Linked DNA regions of Homo sapiens: region 2 is linked to region 1. Evidence: fine-mapped expression QTL. Tissue or cell type: whole blood. Region 1 holds a variant in brackets; the other region holds the start of a gene. All regions are shown on one strand. Distances are from middle to middle.

What was found. PIP is the estimated chance that this variant, and not a neighbour inherited with it, causes the effect.
Region 2: it holds the start of SH3YL1, and the variant in region 1 is fine-mapped to the expression of SH3YL1 in whole blood (INTERVAL, PIP 0.98).

Annotation. Positions count from the first base shown.
Region 1 is chr2:197,313-202,457 of GRCh38, forward strand. No RefSeq gene overlaps it. Among named protein-coding and RNA genes, the nearest start is that of SH3YL1, 64 kb to the right of the region's middle. RefSeq lists an enhancer at 290-1,489. The variant G/T (reference allele first, on the strand shown) is at 2,190.
Region 2 is chr2:261,249-266,393 of GRCh38, forward strand. It overlaps SH3YL1 (SH3 and SYLF domain containing 1), which reads right to left and starts at 2,784. Exons shown (of 10, transcript NM_015677.4): 1 at 2,736-2,784. The coding sequence starts at 2,736. It overlaps ACP1 (acid phosphatase 1), which reads left to right and starts at 3,699. Exons shown (of 6, transcript NM_004300.4): 1 at 3,699-3,759. The coding sequence starts at 3,717. RefSeq lists silencers at 2,680-3,259, 3,330-3,409 and an enhancer at 3,760-3,809.

The DNA.
Region 1 (5,145 bases):
ATTAATTTCTACTTGAACTCATTTTTAATGTGTTTTTACTAATATTAAGAAAATAAGCCATGATATAAAGTGTTGGAAAGGAAAACCCTGACTGCACACCCCAGCCCCGTAACAGAACACAGAAACGCGCAGGGCCTTTTCCCTTCTGTCTGCCTTTCCGGCCTCTGGACACAGAAACGCGCGGGGCCTTTTCCCTTCTGTCTGCCTTTCCGGCCTCTTGACATGGAAACACGCGGAGCGTTTTCCCTTCTGTCTTCCTTTCCGGCCTGTTGACATGGAAACGCGCGGAGCCTTTTCCCTTCTGTCTGCCTTTCCGGCCTGTTGACGTGGAAACGCGCGGGGCCTTTTCCCTTCTGTCTGCCTTTCCGGCCTGTTGACGTGGAGACGCGCGGGGCCTTTTCCCTTCTGTCTGCCTTTCCGGCCTGTTGACGTGGAGACGCGCGGGGCCTTTTCCCTTCTGTCTGCCTTTCCGGCCTGTTGACGTGGAGACGCGCGGGGCGTTTTCCCTTCTGTCTGCCTTTCCGGCCTGTTGACGTGGAGACGCGCGGGGCCTTTTCCCTTCTGTCTGCCTTTCCGGCCTGTTGACGTGGAGACGCGCGGGGCCTTTTCCCTTCTGTCTGCCTTTCCGGCCTGTTGACGTGGAGACGCGCGGGGCCTTTTCCCTTCTGTCTGCCTTTCCGGCCTGTTGACGTGGAGACGCGCGGGGCCTTTTCCCTTCTGTCTGCCTTTCCGGCCTGTTGACGTGGAGACGCGCGGGGCCTTTTCCCTTCTGTCTGCCTTTCCGGCCTGTTGACGTGGAGACGCGCGGGGCGTTTTCCCTTCTGTCTGCCTTTCCGGCCTGTTGACGTGGAGACGCGCGGGGCGTTTTCCCTTCTGTCTGCCTTTCCGGCCTGTTGACGTGGAGACGCGCGGGGCCTTTTCCCTTCTGTCTGCCTTTCCGGCCTGTTGACGTGGAGACGCGCGGGGCCTTTTCCCTTCTGTCTGCCTTTCCGGCCTGTTGACGTGGAGACGCGCGGGGCCTTTTCCCTTCTGTCTGCCTTTCCGGCCTGTTGACGTGGAGACGCGCGGGGCCTTTTCCCTTCTGTCTGCCTTTCCGGCCTGTTGACGTGGAGACGCGCGGGGCCTTTTCCCTTCTGTCTGCCTTTCCGGCCTGTTGACGTGGAGACGCGCGGGGCCTTTTCCCTTCTGTCTGCCTTTCCGGCCTGTTGACACGGAGACGCGCGGGGCCTTTTCCCTTCTGTCTTCCTTTCCGGCCTCTTGACGTAGTCTACTTTTACTCAGCTCCTGTCATAGTGCTTGTAAGGTCGTGTATCCTAAATTTTCTCTAAATGATATATCATAAGCACTTTTCTATGTTGTCATTTAGTTGTAGTAATCAACATTTTAATGACTAAGTGATATTTCAGAGCATTTCAACATTCCTGAATAAAATGATAATATGGCCGTAAAAACAATGAGGTTGTACCACAATAGAAGAAATATAACTCTAGTCTTTAAGAAAGAAACGTTACTACCTGTGTGGCTAACAGTTGCTGGCTTTTCTCTATGTTTCTCATACTTTGGAATGAATTAGCTCTAGAATAAAGTCAGCATATTGTGTGTCTGAGTCCTGAACTTCTGGCTGGTGGACACAGATCTCTGTTGTATGCAGCCTTCTTGCTGGCCAAGTAGATCAGCACAGAGACACTGAGCTCACTCTGGCTTTCTCTGTTCTCCAGCCTGGCCCCCTGCATTCCCACAGCTTAAAGTTTATTTTAAGCTTTATTCTTTCCCACGTCCTTTGTTTTTTTTAGATAACGTTCATGTAATTATGAAAATAAATTCAGAGCAAGGCTGTCTTTCTGAGGGCAGGGGTGCGTTGCCGGCAGCCGAGGCCTGCTGGGGATAGTGTTCCTCGTCTGCCAGTGCTTGTTCTGTGGGAATAAAGCAACAGGATCATTTTAGAATAATTAGGGAAAAAATACAAAACACTGAGGGTGAATTAGCCCTGCCAATCTGGTGGTCGTTCCTGAGTTCAGCAAATTTGCATCCATATGTATCTGTGTCTTGTGACTGCATTGATTTGGTTTTCAACTTCTTTGCAAGAATACAAGCTACGGGGAGGCTGCCGCCTCAGTAGAGCCTGTGTTCACTGATGTGGCCCTGTGGTAACAGCGAGGACAGCAAGGTGACGGGTGCAGCTCCTGCCC[G/T]TCAGGCACTCACAGTCCTGAAGAAGACAGAGGAAGAAAAGCCCGTTGTCCAGCAAGCTTGTGAGGTGGCTGAAGCCTGTCTCCACTGTATCCAGGGCAGAAAAATACCGGCGAGACTTCAGCGGGGCTGAGGCCTAACTGAAACCAAGATGAGCTTTGGTTTTATTTCTTAGTATAATGTCACCTAGTGAGTTTCACCAAATATTGCATTTGCATAATGCATTTTTGTGCTACTTTTCTAGACCCCAGAAGTGACAAGAGGGCAGGAAACTTCTGGCTCACGCCAGCACGGTAACCACTGCTTCTGTCCGTCTCCTCGACAGTCCGCACACCACTGCACAAGGCAGCGGTTTATCTTTTTAATTCTCTGCTTCATTGGCATAGCCTTGACTGGCAAACAGTAGGTATTCAATAAATATGGTACTTATATTGATGGAATAGATTATTATATTATCATTTAACATAGTAGATTTTTGTATTAGACTTTTAATATACAGTGGTCTTAATATATACATAGGTGAAACAAAATGGGAATTAGAAGGCTTACCTAACTTCCATTTGTCAACGGCATTTATTCAATAAAAGTGTATTTTAGTGCTTACGACACACCAGTTAGCAGGCTCAGCTCTGAAGACACCGTGACACAGTTTTTGTCTTTTCAGGGAGTTGATTGCTATCTGGTGGGAGATACAGAGTGGAGGCAGGCATGGGAAATACAGTGCGTTAAAGGTAGGTTCAGATTGAGTGGAGCAGCTTTAAAGGACTAAGTGTCTGGCCAGTCTTCAATAAACATGAAACTGAAGTTAGAACCAAGAAGTATCCAAGAAATCACCTGGTACAGCAACTCCGGAACTAACAGCCTGTAGGACACTCAGTGGGCTCCTGGTTTCATATTCCATAATGCAAACATCTACTGAGGACCATGCTAGACAGCGGCAAAGGCCAAAAAAAGCACCAGGACTTGACTTCAGCTACGATCCAAGCAATCAGATGTGCTTTTACATGTCAATTGCATGCAAACCACCAGTGCAAGTTTGAAGTGTTACGTGACAAGAGTAGTAAGAATCGCCTTCAATGATGCATAGGGAGCATTCACTATGGGCCCAGCACCCCACAAGACCACCTCTATGCATTATCTTGTTTTATGCCATTAGACATTTGAGAAACCTGAAATTCAAAGACGGCAGCCACTCAGACAAGGTCAGGGAGCTGGTAGCAGCAGATCCAGGGTCCAGCCCCGACAGCCGAGCTCCAGCTCTGGCGTTTGACCACCCTGCGAATCCTATTATACCACTTGACCTAAAATTCATGTGCAAATATAGAAATTACTTCACGCTCAGGACTTGGAGGATTATTATCAAAGGCCCCTGCGGGTAGGTGATTGGGAGTCATGGCTGGGAAGAGCTGAACTCCTCATGTTCTCATGGCTGATCCGAGAGCCCTGGGTTTGGAAGCAGAACACCCACCTGTTTAGAGCTGTGATTCTGTCACTTCCTAGGGGTGTGATGGTGGGAATTAACCAAGTTTCTTCACCAGTAATATTTGCACAATAACACCGTCCTCATTCTGCTGTCTATAGTATTTAAAACTCCTATATTAAATAACCCTTCCAATACTGCTGCAAATTAAAAACCTGGACCAAGGGGACCCCAACTAACTACTGCAGCCACCCCTGCTGGGGGCAAGCCAGAGCCCACTAAAACAGGACATTTGGCTACATTTACAGGGCGGTTTAAATGATTTGAAGCAACAGATGTGTATATTGACTTGGAAGGTTTTGCAGGAAACTGTGTTTCAGTACTTAAATAGCATACTGTAAGGGCTGACCTTGATCCAAGGGGTCACAAATGTCACCTCGTTGGGAGGTGTCTTTTCCAGGATCTACGTTATAATTATGATCTCCTTGGAAGCACCAGGGGAGAAATTCCAGATGGTTTTGCAAGGATAAAGTGAGAGCAAATGAACATCCAGGTTATGTATGGATGTTCATGGAGGATTAAGTGAGAGAATGGTGTGGAAAGTACCAGGTAAACCAGGAGGCCTGAAGCACACGTGTAATATGTTTATTATTTGACTTAAATGAAAGCATGGATATTTTTAAAGGTTAAAGAAAAAGGTTCACCATTTTAAACTCATGTAAAATCATTATATAAAATTATTATTGCTTTTAACTGAGTTCTTGAATCATTTCTTCTTAATTCAAACAAGTCATTATTCTGTGACCAGTAGGAGTTTTTGAGATCAGTCTGTTTGCTACTAAATTTGTCTGCACTTGGGACTTCACTCAAGAGGAATGCCAGCTTTCTTGTGTGGAACCAGAGGCAGTCGGGGCCTGAGCCAGCAGCACTACCTGATCGAGGAACAGGTGCACTGAGAAAACAGAGAAGCCACTCAAGACTGTTAACTTTTTGTTTGAAAGCTGCATCAAAGTCTGGGTAGCCTTCCCAGAAATACTATTCAGTACATGAGCACAGCAGCCTGGGACCTGCAGGGCTCCGCAGGTGACCCTGGCTAACTCCACTGGAAGGGCCCCGCCTCCAGCAACATCTTCCTCAGTTTCCACCTTCTGTCCTTTGCTGATTTAGTCCCACAAGAACTTGAGTCTGAAGACAGCTTTGTTTTCACTGCTGTGATAACAAAAACACAATTATGAAATAATGTAAACGCTCATGCAAAAACACACAGAAAAGCCAAACACAACAGTGGCCCAGCCAAGCTCTGCGAGCTTAGTCCTGTGTGCTGTGAATGCCCTGGGCCCCTCTGGATGCCAAGTGCCATGGACTCAGGCCTTAAAGGAATTTTCAAGCAACACTTTAAATATACGCATTTCAAAAAGTGACTTATACACAAAATTCAAGTGCGATGGTGTACTTTTTGTTATTTTTACTAACTAGAATATAGGGCTCGTGTACATTTTACAAATTTGTTTTGCTTTAGCCTTTTGTTATCCCATCAA
Region 2 (5,145 bases), 64 kb after region 1:
ATGACCTGATCAGAGTGCTGATGTCCCATTCTATCATACTGATGAAGACACAGGTCATTACTAATGAAGCCTCTTAAACCTCACATCATGGTTAGCATCTGCACTCTCATAAACGTCTTAAGTCCCTTGAATCAGGCAAAATCTCTATAAATATTTAAGTTTTTTCTAAAAAAAGAGTGGCTGCCAAACCTCAAGCTAAGAAACTTTCAAATAAAGTTTTCTTTAAAACAAAAGTTAAAATGTTTTAAATTTTCATAGTAACACATTTTTTTTTTAAATTAGAAGGTCTTATAAAATACCGGAAAGACAATTTTTACTTTGGAAACCTCAAAAGCATAAATCAGCTTAAGATCTGGAAATAATTTTAGGTATTGATCGCAGTTCTATAAACTCAATGCTAGAGTCACTGGGGACAAACAGGGACATGAGAATCCTACTCGGAGTAAATTGCCACCTGAGGTGACAAAGCTGACTACGGTTTCCAATCTAGTTGTACACGGAGGGTCAGGAATGAAAGCAAGAAGACCCAAGGGCCCCTCTCCACCACTTTCCTTACCAGAGTTCAGATTCCCAAACTTTTGCTTCCCTTATATTATTTTCTTCAATGGACTCTAATTATGAAAGGAATACTTACAGGAAAGCAAGCTTACTAAATTTGGTTTTCCAAGTTCTTACTGATTACATATTAATCAAATTATTAAACCTTATACTTTATGTGAAATGGAGGTTAACTCATTAAACTGATAAAATTCCATCTAAGATCAAAGGAACTTGAATGCTGCTAAAGGTATATTTAGAATAAACTAAAGAAATCTTAGCCAAAAGAAAGTGTATGTATCTAATCTTTAGAGAGGCTTTCAAATGTTGCTTTAAGCTACTTTTATTAACAAAACTGCATTTTGAACTCCACTGCTTGACAACTATGGCCTTTGTTTCTTAAGTCAATTCTTACCTTTCTGGGGCCTTGGTTTAACTACTTCCTTTGTTTTAAGGACACAAAGCTTGTCAGTTCTCAAAATAAAAACCTGTCTCTCTGGTCAGATCATTAACTCCCTAGTCAAACTTTCAGACTACCGTCTGAACATCAAGTGCTAGCCTGAGCTTGTTTCCAGTCCCCCAACCCCAGGCTGTGGCTGGGGAAGGAAGAGGACAGCGAAAGCTTTCTCTGCTCCCTCGGGAGACAGGAAAGCCCTTTATTTATTCCTGCCCTTCCTCTTCTCCAACTGAAGAGTGTGATCTTGGTACAGAGCAGTTCCACACATGCCACACTGGTCTGATCTTTTAGAGTAAAAAATGGGATCTTCTCAGAGAAAATTTTTTTAAAAACTTCATGTGCTTAGGTCTCAGAGCAGAGAATTTTGTCTTATCATGACGCCACTCACTGGCAAACAAGCTGGCGTGCACAGGGACTTGTGAGGCTCTCAGCAGAGTCAGGGTAGCAGTTATTTCCCTTTGACTGCCTCAACTTCCTATGTTTGTGTTGACATGCCAGATCCTTATTTCTGCGGAATGAGAAATCTCTTGAGAATAAAGTTTTCCTAAACAGAACAAAAGTATCAAATCACTTTTGATGAGCAAACATTATTTTAAACTTTTTTTTAACTTACAAAAGATGAGGGGTAACATTTACTAGTTTTACAGAAATTTTCTTTAAACAGAACATTAGTGAACCAAATAACCAATTCTCCTCAAACATGATAGACAGGATGGAGGTTATCACTTTGATCATTTTAACCTCCAACATAGTAATTTGTAAACATCAGTCGCTGCACAAGTATTTTAATAACAGGCCAGCCCACGGGAGTAAACAGCACCTTAGCCTCGAGACCTGTTCTCTCAACTGTGTGTACAGATTTTCTAAGTCGTTATGAATTCAGATATTCCCTACATCTCAATAAAAACACCTAGGAGAACAAGAAATCAGGACATGCATCTCCTGTAAGCAGAAGAGAAACCGAGCACCTGCTCTCTTGCGGGGGGGCAGCTTCGTGTCACTTTCCAACTCAGCCTCCACAGGAGCATGGGCATATTGGTTCAAATGAAGTGTAAAGGACACATCTCTGTCCACAGTGTAAATCCTATTTCCTTAAGGTGGTCAACCGATTGAGACCAGTTCCACACTTCCTTAAAGAAGGAAAAACTCAGCAGCCAGCGCCAAGGCCCAGCGATCAGAGAGGACCCGTGCTCGCCGCGACCCCGCGCTCGCCCTGTGGCCCCGCGACCCCGGCGCCAGGTGTTGGGGGGACCGGCCCTTCCCTTCCGGGTGTGAGGGGCTGGCCCTTCTCTTCCAGGTTGGGGGGCTGGCAAACTCGAACCTCGCCGGCGCCCTAGCCAAGGCCTCCTCCCCGCGCCTGCCGCGGGTTCCACGCACATTCCAAGCGCGCGCATTCGACCCAAACTTCAGAGACGCTTCTGTGGAACGGAAGGATGGTCGCTGACACCTCGCCGTTCAAATATCAGGAAGTTAAAAATAACACGACCATCGTCATCATTCCAAACTTCGGAATAGCTTTTCTAAAAATGGAAAAGACGGTGGCTAAACTTCAATCAAAATCGCTGTGGTCAAGAAAGTCCTGGAAGCTGCTCTATCTTAACTTTGGGCGGTTTGCGGTTAACAGACGCGCGACCTAGAAACCCCAGAGGCATCGCCGGTTTTCCCGTCCTCCTCCTCCCACCACCGCCCAGCTCTTGAGAGGGGAGGGTGCTGCCGGACAGGTGGGTCCCCGGGTACTCACTGCTGCCCGCCCGGCCGCGGCGCCCCGTCCCGAGGCTGCCCAGGAAGAGGAAGGCGCGCTGCCCCGCCCCGCGGACAAGGAGGCCCCAGCGAGGGCGTACCTGCGGCAGGTGACGAAGGAGGCGGCGCAAAACACCCGCCGTGTACGTTTCGCGGGACAAAAACCACGCGCCCGCCGGGCCGCGCTCAGGCCTTCGCCCTCAGGGACTTCGGAACCGCCCCGTCCTCAAGATCGAAAAGCCCAGAGCCCCGCGGCGGCTCCAAGCACGGTGTTGGGGGTGGGGGTCTCAGGGAGCGCCCAGGCCCAAGGCCGCCCTGGTCCGGCGTGGACCCCGCGGGGCTCAAGGCAGGTTCCCCGCGTGACCCGCCCAGCCCCTCTATGCGAACTCGAACGACAGGCACCACAGCCCGCCACGTGCGCGAGACTCGCGCTGTGCCCCAACCCAGGTGGGCGGCCCGCGGAGCCGCGAGGCCTGAGCCCGCCCTGCAGGTGACCCGCGGCCCTTCCTCCTCCAGGTACCCCTCTCCTGCGGCCCCGTCCCCTATAGGTAACCTTTACCTCCCGCGGCTCCTTCCCCTCCAAGCGACCCGCAGCCCCGCCCCCTCCAGGTGACTCCCCCCCGCCAACCCCCGCCACCACACACACACACCCCCTCGCCTTCCGCGGCCCTACTCCCTCCAGGTGACCCCACCCCCGCAGCTCCTCCTCCTCCGGACAACCTGCAGCCCCGCCCCTGCAGGTGAACGGCGGCCCAGTCCCTGCAGGTGACCCGCGGACCCTCCCCGCCCGTCCTACTACCGTCATAGGACCGCCTCCGCAGGCGCACTGGAGCCGATTGCGCAGGCGTGGCTCTCACACGCGCTGCCCTGTTGGCGTTGGTGCGGGACTGCGCAGGCGCGCGGGGCAAGAGGGTGGCAGTGCGCCTGCGCCGCGTCGGCGTGCGGAACGCCGCGGTGTCTCGGCGCCTCTGCGCGCGGGAAGATGGCGGAACAGGCTACCAAGTCCGTGCTGTTTGTGTGTCTGGGTAAGAGGGCGCCGACTTACTCATGTTCTGACGTCCTCTGGAGAGTTGGATCGGGCTTGTGCGCTGTAGGTTGTGCCGCCGGCCTAGGAACCATGAGGGGGAGGAGGCCAGGGACTGGGAGGCCTAGGGTGTTCTAGGAGTGTGCCGCAGCGCCCCTGTTCCCCATCCGCCCCGTGCACCCGCCCAGCCTGCCCGCTAAACCTGGGTCCCCTCGCGCCTGCCATATATCCGGGGCTCTTGGCATCTGCAGCCACAGCCCCTACAAGCCAAGGTACTTTCTTTGCGACTACTAGAATCCCTCTCGTTCCCCTCCAATGGGCCCAGGTAGGCCTGGAGGTTGTCGGACTGATGTGGTCTCTTAGGGGCCTCCTGAGTCCTATGACAACATTGTTTTGTTTGCTAGTTTCCTTAGCCCATGCTTAGATAGGGATCTGAGTTAAAGGGAGATGAAGTTTTACGGTTTCGGGTTTCTTGATTGTAAAAGCCAAGCAAAGGAGACCTGGAGGTCCCTATATAACTTTGGCCCATGAAAAATGAAAGTGTATTTTATTAATGGCTTTTCAGGAACTTTCCAGCTTAAATTATTTTCACTCCTAGAATTTCAACACTTAGCTTGCCTTACTTCAAACATAATTTATTTTCCGTTTGGTCTTCAGGGATCTTCCTTTGGTGTAGCACTACAAGGTTATATTCCTCGGTGCCTCCACCCTGAGAGGAAGGCCTAAATTGTCAGTAGTCCGGTTACTTAAAACCTTCTGTGAGTTTGCATTTCCTGCAGTTTCTGTTTATTTTTACAGACTCCTCACTTTATCTCCTGTACCTTTTCCTGCTCACACCCTCGGGACACTGCCTTCCAGAACCTTTCGTTGTTCGGTAGCACTTCACATGCTTACTGAGCCTTCATCGCTGGGTGCCCATTATGCATTTTGCCTGGAAAGCCTTTTTATTTTATAAAGTCAAACCTAAATATTTCCTCCTTTGCTTTCCCAGATCATGAGTTGCTTCCTTATCGACATCTTTTATTACACAAATTTTACTATAATTTGTGTAATATAGTAAAAGATGTAATACAGAAAAGGTGTGATTCCTTATCGACATCTTTTATTACACAAATTTTACTATAATTATTTGATAGTCTGTTGAAATCCCAGCTGAGTTTAATTTTGTCGATGGCAATAACTGTGGCTTATTTTTCATTTTGTTTTCAGCTTTAGGACAATATATGATAAACGCTGACTAGGTTTTGTAGAAGTTAACTTCTGTGAAAGACGAATTAGAAGGCTTACCTTGTTTCACATTGGTAGTGGGCATCATTTGATTTTTAAGACTCATTGAAGGCTGAATGATGAAATCAATAAGTTTATTAAACAGTAGTTTGGTTAAGGA